3 linked regions of the Homo sapiens genome follow. Changing the gene in region 1 together with any one later gene gives a genetic interaction. Each region holds a gene or a part of one and is shown in the gene's direction. Other genes may lie near its edges. The genes, in order: AKT2, PARP1 and GHSR.

Region 1 (3,646 bases):
GGGACTTCCCACAGCCTGTGGTGGCACCTCGGGGCTCTCGTGATGTCTGTTTGTCTCCCTTGCAGGGACGTCACAGGTGTCTTGTCCCTAGCAGCCTGGTCCTTACATTGTGACATTCCTGCTGACTTTTCACCTGTGGCTTTGAGAGCCACTGATGATCCTCGTCTGGGTCTGCTATTTGCTGAGGGTTTGCAGGCTTTCACTTTTCACTCCTGTGATTTTCTGCATTTATGGCTGGGAATGGAATTGCATTTCACAAGGCCTTGCTCCCCTTCGTCGGGGCGGAGTGGGCAGGTGTGGTGTTGCCCACCAGCCCCTCACCCGCAGTCTGTCTGCAGGATGAAGTCGCTCACACAGTCACCGAGAGCCGGGTCCTCCAGAACACCAGGCACCCGTTCCTCACTGTGAGTTGCCCTCCCCTTCCCAGACAGTGTGAGGCCAGCCTTTGGACAGAGCTCAGAGAGAGAGCCCTAATCTTCTGGTACAAAGCACAGTCTTGGGGTAGGCCAGGCGGGCAGGGCAAGGTGTTGCTGCGCCCTGCCAAGTCATCCGAACCAAGACATGTGGTGGGGGTGAGCAGGCTCGGGGAGTGGGAGGGTGACAGCTTCTTCATAGATGGTGGCTTCATGTAAGCATTTGAACTAACTGAAGATATCACATTATTTGCTGGCTGCTGTCTCTATGAGTTAGGAGCACTTAGCCCAGCTGGTTGAAGTGGAAACATTATTTTTTTTGTTTTTGTTTTCAGATATGCTCATAGAAGCAGATGTGTTAGCATTGTGTTGTCTGTCAGCCTGGACTGAGTAGATGCCTGTTTGGGCTGCAGTCTCCATCAAGGCCAGTGGCCACCAGTTAAATGGACTAGATTGAGGATGGCTTATGTATCATTTCTTTATCTCAGTTGCTGTCCAGGTATCCTATTAAGCCACAGTACTTTTTCAAATAAAATCTTATGAGGTACCTCAGTGCAGAAAACAGAATAGTTGAGTTGTCATGAGCTGAAGGACCCCCTGGTGGGAGTCTCTGAGGAACTCTCTGTAGATCTCCTTAGTGCAGTGGAGAACTACTGTTTGTTGACTGACAGCCTGTCCATCCTGTCATTGAAGTTGGCTCCCAAGCCTTTGCCACTCCCAGCCACAGCAGACATCACTTGTGTGTGTAAGTTGAACACATTTTACTGTAAAAACAAGAGCCATGGTTGCTCAGAACAGCTCTAGTTCTCCCTTGGCTGTGCCTGATGGAGGCAGAGGACAAGATGGTTCAGCATGTAACCCTTTCCTACCGCAGAGCCATGCCTTCACTTAATGCCCCAAAAGGTGCAGCCGGTATGTGAACCCCATATGGCTGACTCCTGGGGGCCCCAGCCAGGGCAGGGTGTGTGTGTGCAGAATAAGCAGGGCCAGGGCCCTGCCCTGGCATGGCTCAGCAGAGCCCTCCTCCCTCCCACCTCCCACCCTGCTGCCTTCATCCCCCAGGCGCTGAAGTATGCCTTCCAGACCCACGACCGCCTGTGCTTTGTGATGGAGTATGCCAACGGGGGTGAGGTGAGCCGCGGCTGCCTTGACTTTGCCCTCTGGGGCCTCCTTCTTTAGGGTGGGGCGGGATGGAGAGGAGCTGTGGGTGAGATGGAAGGGTGGAGGGAAATTTCAGTGTCATCTAGTGCCCCTCTCCCTTGAGGCAGGCGGCTTCGTCTCCATTTTGGGGGGGCAGTCACTGAGGCTCAGAGAGGTTAAGTGGCTTGCCCAAGTTTACACAGCTAGTGAGTGGGTGGGTCAGGTCCAAACCAGTCCAGAGAGGTGTGGAGAGGGCTGTGGGGCGATAGCACTGGGAAGGATGGTCTTAAAGGCCCCAGAGAAAGCCCCCAAGGGTTAAAACCTAGCAGCCCTCCGTTCCCGTGTCCTCTCGAAGTGAATTCCCGCAGCCGCTCAGCTTCCCCTTACAGAGTCGCCTCACTTTTGTCACCCACTCCTTGCCTCGCGCCTTCTCTGTGCAGTGGTTGGCACACCTGCTTTGGGATGCGTGGTTTGCTCATCTGTCTGATCTGGGCTTGCCCATGGCCTATTGTTACTTGGTCATGACGTGTGCTTCTTTTTGCCTCCATGCCATCCTCCCTCCTGTCTCGGATGTCTCTCCCATACCCTCTCATGGGTGCCTCCTGGCAGACCCTCGCCCTTCCCCCCAGCTCTGTGTCACTTATGAGCTTCTGCGCTCTGCCTTGATTGGTCCCTCTAGCTGTCACTTGCTGGTTCATGATACAGGTGTCACCACATCACTGCGCTGGGGCAGGGGGCTGGGAAGGTGAGGGCAGGTGGGTGGGCTGGGGCCTGACCTCCTCTCCCCACCCCTTCCTCCTGCAGCTGTTCTTCCACCTGTCCCGGGAGCGTGTCTTCACAGAGGAGCGGGCCCGGTTTTATGGTGCAGAGATTGTCTCGGCTCTTGAGTACTTGCACTCGCGGGACGTGGTATACCGCGACATCAAGGTTAGTGGCAGGGTGTGCGCCAGGCTGACCTGTGGCATGCACACCACATGGGACTCACACTGGGGAAGTTGGGCTGAGCTTCTGCCCTCATTCGCCAGGCTCCCCACCAAGGTCCAGGGTGGTGGCTGCCCTCATTCGCCAGGCTCCCCACCAAGGTCCAGGGTGGTGGCTGCCCTCATTCACCAGGCTCCCCACCAAGGTCCAGGGTGGTGGCTCTGTGGCAAGTTGCCCCAAGTAGGGACCTTCCCAAGCCTCCCATGAGCGCTCCTAGGCCACTAGCGGAGTGTCAACTGCCACAATACCTACTTTATTTGTATTTATTTATTTATTTATTTTTGAGGAGTCTTACTCTGTTGAGTGCAGTGGTGTGATCTCGGCTCGCTGCAACCTCTGCCTCCCGGGTTCAAGCGATTGTCCTGCCTCAGCCTCCCGAATAGGTGGGATTACAGGTGCCCGCCACCATGCCCAGCTAATTTTTGTATTTTTAGTAGAGACGGGGTTTCATCATATTGGCCAGGCTGGTCTCAAACTCCTGACCTTGTGATCCACCCACCTCAGCCTCCCAAAGTGCTTGGATTACAGGCATGAGCCCCCGCGCCCGGCCAATTTTAGAAGATAGTTTGGCAGTGTCCACCAAAGCTGAGCACCAGTCATCTGCCCTAGCTGTGTGCACAGGAGAAGTGGGGACACACACTCACCTTAGAAAGTGTCCCCCTCACTCAGCAGCAGGACTTACTCTAGCCCCAACTGGAACAACCCAAGTATCCACTGTGAGAGGAACAGTCAGATCCACTGTGGAGTGTTCTCACAGTGGGACGCCACACAGCAGTTAGGAATGAGCTACAGCTACACACGACAGTGTGGACGCGTCTCATAGGCTAATGTCGAGGGAAAGCCGCACAGAGGAGGTGAGTCCACAGTTCACAGGTGTGTCTGTGTGCAGTGGTACAGATGGGAAGTAGAGGTTAATTCTTGTGGGGGATGGTCAGTAACCGGGAGGGGCACACAGGGCCTTCCAGGGGGAGATGCCACCTCAGCCTCGCAAGTAGCTGGGACTATAGGTGTGTGCCACCATGCCTGGCTAATTTTTTTTTTCATATTAAGAAATATGGAGATGGGGTCTCGCTGTGTTGCCCAGGCTGGTCTCAAACTCATGGGTTCAAGCA
Region 2 (3,646 bases), on another chromosome or scaffold:
TACTTAGTAAACTGACCATAAACTTGAAGACGTTGGTTACCCTCTCTGTTAAAAGTGAAGTCATCCCTCTGTATCCTCGGGGATTGGTTCCAGGACTCCCTCGGGGTTACTAAAATTCACTCATGCTCAAGTCCTAGAGTGCCCTGCAGAACCCATGGAGGAGAAAAGTTGGCCCTGCACATCTGTGGGTCTCGCATCCTGAGATTTTTTTTTTTTTTTTTTGGTGGGATTTTTCTTTCTTTTTCTTTTTTGAGACAGAGTCTTGCTCTGTCCCCCAGGCTGGAGTGCAGTGTCACAATCTCAGCTCACTGCAACCTCCATCCCCAGGTTCAAGCGGTTCTCGTGCCTCAGACTCCCAAGTAGCTGGGGTTGCAAGCATGGGCCACCACACCCGGCTAATTTTTTTGTATTTTTAGTAGAGGTGGGGTTTCACTATGTTGGCCAGACTGGTCTCAAACTCCTGGGTTCAAGTGATCCGCCTGCCTCAGCCTCCCAAAGTGCTGGGATTACAGGCATGAGCCACCACACCTGGCCTGAGAATACTATATTTTTTATCTGAGTTTGGTTGAATTCTCAACTGCAGAGCCCACAGGTGTAGAGAGCTAACTGTATTTATTGAAAACATCTGTGTATAAGTGGACCCGCATACTTCAAATCGATTGTTCAAGGGTCACCTGTGTTGTGGTTTTTATTTTATGTGTCCTTAAGAGTTAGGCAGAGTTTATTTTGCAGTTACTAGGAAGTCATCAAATGGAAGCCTCTTTCATTCATGTTATTTCAACATTCTTTGAGCATCTTTCAAGGTCTACCAGTCCCGGAGCCTTCCAGCTACATCCTGGAGGGGCTGGAGGGTTCCGCTTATATTTGTGGGTGGGTGCAGGCCTGGCCTGTAGAAAGAAGGAAAGCACACAGGAAGCAGAAGTGGGCCCAGGCAGCGGGCTTTCTGGCTGGTGCTGGAGAAAAGGCGCTGAACCGGATCTGTCAACTTCAGTTACAGCTGGCTCTGAGCAGTGAACCTCTCTCCTTGTTCCTTACTGACTGAGAACTTACAAGGCTTTCCTCGGCCCCAGCTTCTTCCCATGCAATAGTCTTCAGGAAGAAGAGCTGGAATAGCATCCTTACCCATTGCCAGAGCCACCTGGGCAGCACAGATGGAAGTTGTACAACTTGGTGAAGTCCATGTCACAGCGAGAAGCAGGCGTGGGGCTTCGGACCTGCTGGGTGCCACTTCATATTCCCTTGACCTTCCTGTGGTCACCTAGGCTGTCTGCGAAATTCCTGGAATCCCAGTGGCCCCGCTCTTCCATCTCTGTGCATTTTTTGTGCACCCTTTGCATATAGAGCACCAAGTGACACTGGCAGTGAGTGTAAGGATTGCTTAGCCTTTCTGTGCCTGGCCACCTCAACCTCCAGGTACAGTAAAAACTAATTCCAATGAAGGTCAGTGGAGGCAGGGAGCCTGACTGAATTTTATAGCGATGGGCAACCTCCTCCCAACATTTTATTATGAAAATGTTTCAAACATACAAAAAGTTGAAGGAATTTTACAGCAATAGTCATTAGCCCACCACCTAGATTTTACAGTTAACATTTTGCATAGTTGTGGCGGGGTTTCAAATGTCTGTAACTGCACAGTTCTTTGTACAAATGAAACTTCATGGGAGAAGCCCATCACGTGTTGAGCAGTGCTTTTAGAGGATGGGGGTCCTGCCCTGCTCTTTAACAGGAAGATGGTCTTCTGGTCGTTTCCCATGTGTCCTGGCATGTGCACATACCACGCTACTTCTGGACCTGCTGCAGCACCCACCTGCTAAAAGAGAAAGCCTGGCCGGGGGCTTGGAGCTGCTCCCTCAGTCTTGCATTCCTTCTGTCCCCTCCTCTCCAGGCGGTGTCTCAGGGCAGCAGCGACTCTCAGATCCTGGATCTCTCAAATCGCTTTTACACCCTGATCCCCCACGACTTTGGGATGAAGAAGCCTCCGCTCCTGAACAATGCAGACAGTGTGCAGGTAGCGCAAGGGTTCAGAAGGGACTGCAGGTCTGCTGGGCTGGGGTGTGACTACCTTGCAGCCGTCCCTCCCCATCATGATCCCTGAGGGCAGCACCAATGCTGGGAGGGCCACCCTCTTGCCCTTGTTTTGAAGTTGGGTTTCTACCCACATTGATGGAGGCAGAGCTGTTTTTCCTGCCCCTGTTCTACCAAATCCACTGGGGAAAGAGCTGTTGGAGAGGGACAGCCTCTCCCTCATAACAGCATCTTCCTCCCCATTTTCCCTCCCTGCCTTTTAAGACAGCTCCTGGCTCAGGACCCATTTGTCTAAAGTACCTTCACTGTAGGTCCCAAATGTCAGCATGTACGAGAGGAAAGACAGTTCTTCCACCTCTCAACTCCCCCAGGCCACAAGGCCTTGTTAACATTCCAGAAAGTCCTTATGAGCTCTCAATATGTGCAGCAGGTAACAGGCTGGCCCTGACCAGCAGGAGGGTTTGCCATTCACTGTGTTGGACCTTCTCTGCATGTAGGTTTTCTCTGCCACCTGGGTGAGTCTGTCTCATTCACCATGATACCTAAGTCGGGGGCTTTCTTTTGCTCCTCCAGGCCAAGGTGGAAATGCTTGACAACCTGCTGGACATCGAGGTGGCCTACAGTCTGCTCAGGGGAGGGTCTGATGATAGCAGCAAGGATCCCATCGATGTCAACTATGAGAAGCTCAAAACTGACATTAAGGTAACAGGGTCAGGCCTTCCTCAAGCATCTTAACCTCTCATCCTGAGAGCAGCGGTCCCAAACTTCCATGTGTGTTAGGATCTCCTGGAAAGCTTGTTAAAACACAGGTGGCTGGCGCCCAATAATTCACTTTTCTAACAAGTTCCCGGACATTGCTGCTGGTGGTCCTTTGAGAACCTTTGGGCGTTTCACGTGTAGATAATGCACCTTGTTTGCAAGGCAGCCTTCCAAGCCAGCACCTCAGCTTGGCGTACAAATTTATTTTTGAGGGTCTTACCAAAAGTTCTTTTTTGTTTGTTTGTTTGTTTGTTTCCTCTCCTTAATCTAGAGAGGAGCTCTGTTTTTCTAAACCCTTGTAGCGTGAACTTTTAGAAGACTTATTACCGGTGTCCATTTCAGAAGTGGAAATGCTTGATGGCACCTGTAATAAAAACACAATGCTTGCGTTCATTTTTCTCTGGTGCTGAAGTGGACTGTGTTGGCACACACAGTCTCTGAACACCCCGCTTAGACCAACTAGAGGAGGGATTTTTGCCTCAGCTTCTAGATGGCCCGGTCCTTGAGCCTATCTCCACACTCATGTGCCCCATTGTCCTCAGCCCATTCCCTGCAGTGTTGCAGGGGTTTGGGTGGGCGAGAGTATGTTGAGTCTGGTACCAGGTGTTTACATCGCTAAAGAAAGAGCCTTGGCTTCTTTCCTAGGACAAAGTATAGACCTATGGGTCCAAGCAGGGTAAGACACCACATGTCATTTGTTTTGCCCCTAGAGCACCTTCCTGATGGGAAAACTGTAGGTGTGGTTCTTCGTGAAGGGATTCTTATTCTCTTTTTACAATTCTGAAGCCTTTTAATTAAAAGACAGGGAGGTAGACCAGCATTCTAGGTTTTCTGAAGTTTGAATATAAATATGAAAATAAAA
Region 3 (4,074 bases), on another chromosome or scaffold:
TCCCTGACACTTGATATCACCCCCAGTGGTCCGCACAAATCATTGCAATTCAAAGAAAAAGACGTAATGCTCAGGAGGTTGAAGACCTTGCCCAAGGGAATACGGCTACTAAATGGCTGATCTCTCTCAGTTATGCCTCAAAAAATGTTTCCTGCACACTCTCGACGCGCCAGCCTCACAGCCTCTTCTTCACTTGCCGCCTCCACACACCTCCAACCCTGCCTTTTTCCTTTCTCCTGTTCCCTCCCTGACCAACCTCGGCACCCCGCCACCAGGTTTGCATCAAGCAAAAGTAATATACCCTACAGCAGACTCTCTACCACTACCGAGTGATACAAAGGACTGGGATTCTGGACAGGGTTTACTCACATATCTTGCCCCTGTGCGCTCAGAAGTCCCAACCGGGTGGGAGATCCGACACTGGTCCCCGAGTCCCCAGCTCGCTGTGTGACCTTGGACAAGTAGTCACATCGCTGAACCTGGGTCCTATAACTGCGTGAGACTATTCTTTGGTGCTCACCGGTATGAATACAAACACAAGGTCCTTCTTTTCTCTCTCTATCCCCCTTCCCAAGTCGAGTTGGTCAAGCTCGCTTTTTCTTTCCACCAGGGCCATAGCCAGCTGCAGCCTTGTGGAGGAAGAAATCAGGTCCCAGCTGCTAAAGGTGTCCTCCCCACCGCCACCGTCGTCTTCACCCCCACCCCCGGGTGTGACCTGTCCTTCCGGGGCACACTAGTCCAGCGTCGCCCAGGGCTTCGGAGAGAGCGCCTCACGCTCCCGCTTCGCGGCGCCTGGTCCCTGCGGTCCCCACTCGCTGCGACGCTTTGGGAAGTGCGAGATGGAACTGGATCGAGAACGCAAATGCGAGGCAGGGCTGGTGACAGGTATGCGTGTGGGCGCCGGCCGGAGGATGTGTTGGGAGAAACTTTGGGGGAGTTGGTGGGGGAAAGGGGAGGTGTCAGAGAAAGCAGTGGGTCACTCTCTCACCCACTGACCACCAGTCTCTCTCCCTCTTCCTTGTCCCCATCTCACCTTCTTCCTCGGCTTCTGCCTCTCACCTCCCTCTCTTTCTTCTCCAAGCATCCTCCCTACGCGTCTGCACCCGCTCCTCCCTCGCACCCTCCCGCGCCTAAGCGGACCTCCTCGGGAGCCAGCTCGGTCCAGCCTCCCAGCGCAGTCACGTCCCAGAGCCTGTTCAGCTGAGCCGGCAGCATGTGGAACGCGACGCCCAGCGAAGAGCCGGGGTTCAACCTCACACTGGCCGACCTGGACTGGGATGCTTCCCCCGGCAACGACTCGCTGGGCGACGAGCTGCTGCAGCTCTTCCCCGCGCCGCTGCTGGCGGGCGTCACAGCCACCTGCGTGGCACTCTTCGTGGTGGGCATCGCTGGCAACCTGCTCACCATGCTGGTGGTGTCGCGCTTCCGCGAGCTGCGCACCACCACCAACCTCTACCTGTCCAGCATGGCCTTCTCCGATCTGCTCATCTTCCTCTGCATGCCCCTGGACCTCGTTCGCCTCTGGCAGTACCGGCCCTGGAACTTCGGCGACCTCCTCTGCAAACTCTTCCAATTCGTCAGTGAGAGCTGCACCTACGCCACGGTGCTCACCATCACAGCGCTGAGCGTCGAGCGCTACTTCGCCATCTGCTTCCCACTCCGGGCCAAGGTGGTGGTCACCAAGGGGCGGGTGAAGCTGGTCATCTTCGTCATCTGGGCCGTGGCCTTCTGCAGCGCCGGGCCCATCTTCGTGCTAGTCGGGGTGGAGCACGAGAACGGCACCGACCCTTGGGACACCAACGAGTGCCGCCCCACCGAGTTTGCGGTGCGCTCTGGACTGCTCACGGTCATGGTGTGGGTGTCCAGCATCTTCTTCTTCCTTCCTGTCTTCTGTCTCACGGTCCTCTACAGTCTCATCGGCAGGAAGCTGTGGCGGAGGAGGCGCGGCGATGCTGTCGTGGGTGCCTCGCTCAGGGACCAGAACCACAAGCAAACCGTGAAAATGCTGGGTGGGTCTCAGCGCGCGCTCAGGCTTTCTCTCGCGGGTCCTATCCTCTCCCTGTGCCTTCTCCCTTCTCTCTGAGTCTCCATCTCTATTTCCCCCTGAGTCGCTACCTCTTTCTTCAGTTTCTCTGGGCCTCTGTCTCTCTGCGTTTCTCTCAATTATTCTCTCCTCTTGCTTTCTTGAGTGATGTTTTTGATCTCTCAATCTTTCTCTCTGTCTCTGTCTCTCTCTCTCCTCCCCCTTTACTTTGTCAGTGTCTTTCTTACCGTCTCTATCTCTTTGTGTCTCTTTCTTCCTGTCTCTCCTTTCTCTCTTTCATGCAAAAATGTCCCATATTTGTATTTCCCTAAAATAAATTTTATATCAGCCCAGAAACTCCACTTTAAAAATCGAGATATCTTATAAAAGTCCATTGTGGTCTTTAAGCGTTAAAAGTGAGGACTGACTTCCTGCCTCAAGTAGGATTTGTGAATATCTAAGTTACATTAAGAAAAGCAGGGTTTGGATCTAGAAAGCGTTCAGCGGTAAATTCAACCAAAGACATGATCAATTTGGATAATCCTCTTAGAGATTATTCATTTTTCTTTCAATATTGTGATTTGTTTTCTGCCCTGCATTTTTTCAGATAATTGCATCAATTCTGTTTACCCTGCTGCTGTTCATACAGCTTTGTAAGGAAGTCAGTGACAAATCAGTGAAGTCTCATTTGTTTTTATGATTACCTGCCTCTTCAGGTAGGATAGACTAGGATAAGGTAAGGATAAACTAGATTAAACAAAGCTCCAACAGGAGGAAAGGAGACTTTGTGGAAACCAACAGAATTCACTACTTCCCCAAATGACCCTTCAGGAACATCTGGGCACAATGTCATAACTGGATTTGCTGAATGTTTATTGCACAAATTCAGCTTCTTTAAGTATATGTGTTTGGTACAAGTGAAGTAATAATAAATATGGTTACAGCCCAGCAAAATATTAACTCTACTTGCATTTTCAAAACCAAGGTCTGTATATTTTATTATTTAGATATTATAGTCAAGACTTCATACTTAATGGCATATTTTAAGGCTTCTTAGAAGCCATTCCAGGATGATTTCATATTTCCAATTTTACAGTTCCTGGATCCTCCATATTAAAGTGATAGAGTTTATTCAAGGAATGTCAAAGATTTTATTTTCTGGACCGGTGATTCTCGTGATATGACTCATAGGTTATAAACCTGCTAGTGTCCTCCAAGGGATCCTAAGCTCTCACCTACGAGAGTCACATTGTTACTGTGGCAGTTAAGTTGCTACTATACAACTTAGTTTTAAGGATAAGTTTAATAATTTCCTCCAATTTTATTTTCAAGCCATTAATTTCTTCATTGGTGTCTCAACACCAATGTTAACTTTCTTCTTCCTTGACAATTTGAAGGGGATCACTAAAGTGTTACAACGACTAAAAAATTATTTGTTATTATTTTTCCCTGATTTCTGAATTTAAAACAATCTAAACATTTAGACATCATTAAAAATTATCTTACATAGGCAAAATGAAGACTTGGATGGATGATAATTTATATGAGTTGGTTTAATAATAGCCTTACTTATGTCTATTGTAAGTGGCATAGAATCATTCATCTCAGTGATTCTTAATCCTAACTGTATATTCAATCCTCTGTGAAACTTAAAAAAAAAAAAGAGAAGATAAAACATATGTCCTGATCGCCCTCTTAGAGATTTAAATTGACTGAGTCTATACTACATCCAAGGAATCTGCATTGTTTTAAAAAGTGCCCCAGGAGACTCGGATACACAGCTATGGTTGAGTACAACCACTTTACCTCGTAAGTGTGTCTGTTGTGTCTAACACATAAAAACTGCTGGACTATTGTGAATAAATGGTCTAGTCAGTTGAGTCAATGTGTCAACTCAGTACAAAATCACTCAGATAGTTGTTAAATAGAAATGACTGGGGAGCTCAGTAAAAATTGTTGAACTGTTGGTCCAGACAGACTGAATCTTTGTTAAAATGTTGGAACAGGAAGAGCAGGACACAATGTTTCTCTGAAGTCAATGGTCATAGACC

Evidence for each region.
Region 2: changes in AKT2 (region 1) and PARP1 together harm fitness less than expected from each alone (positive genetic interaction), as found in Homo sapiens cells (one large-scale study listed by BioGRID).
Region 3: changes in AKT2 (region 1) and GHSR together harm fitness less than expected from each alone (positive genetic interaction), as found in Homo sapiens cells (one large-scale study listed by BioGRID).

The regions. Positions count from the first base shown.
Region 1 is NC_000019.10:40,236,803-40,240,448, reverse strand, and holds part of AKT2 (RAC-beta serine/threonine-protein kinase), read left to right. Parts: intron 1-338; coding exon 339-404; intron 405-1,475; coding exon 1,476-1,544; intron 1,545-2,357; coding exon 2,358-2,480; intron 2,481-3,646. UniProt on the Homo sapiens protein: Serine/threonine kinase closely related to AKT1 and AKT3. All 3 enzymes, AKT1, AKT2 and AKT3, are collectively known as AKT kinase.
Region 2 is NC_000001.11:226,366,561-226,370,206, reverse strand, and holds part of PARP1 (poly [ADP-ribose] polymerase 1), read left to right. Parts: intron 1-1,885; coding exon 1,886-2,008; intron 2,009-2,598; coding exon 2,599-2,727; intron 2,728-3,646. UniProt on the Homo sapiens protein: Poly-ADP-ribosyltransferase that mediates poly-ADP-ribosylation of proteins and plays a key role in DNA repair.
Region 3 is NC_000003.12:172,445,553-172,449,626, reverse strand, and holds the start of GHSR (growth hormone secretagogue receptor type 1), read left to right. Parts: upstream 1-1,170; 5' UTR 1,171-1,213; coding exon 1,214-2,009; coding exon of another isoform or gene 2,010-2,083; exon of another isoform or gene 2,084-2,084; intron 2,085-4,074. UniProt on the Homo sapiens protein: Receptor for ghrelin, coupled to G-alpha-11 proteins. Stimulates growth hormone secretion. Also binds other growth hormone releasing peptides (GHRP) (e.g. Met-enkephalin and GHRP-6) as well as non-peptide, low molecular weight secretagogues (e.g.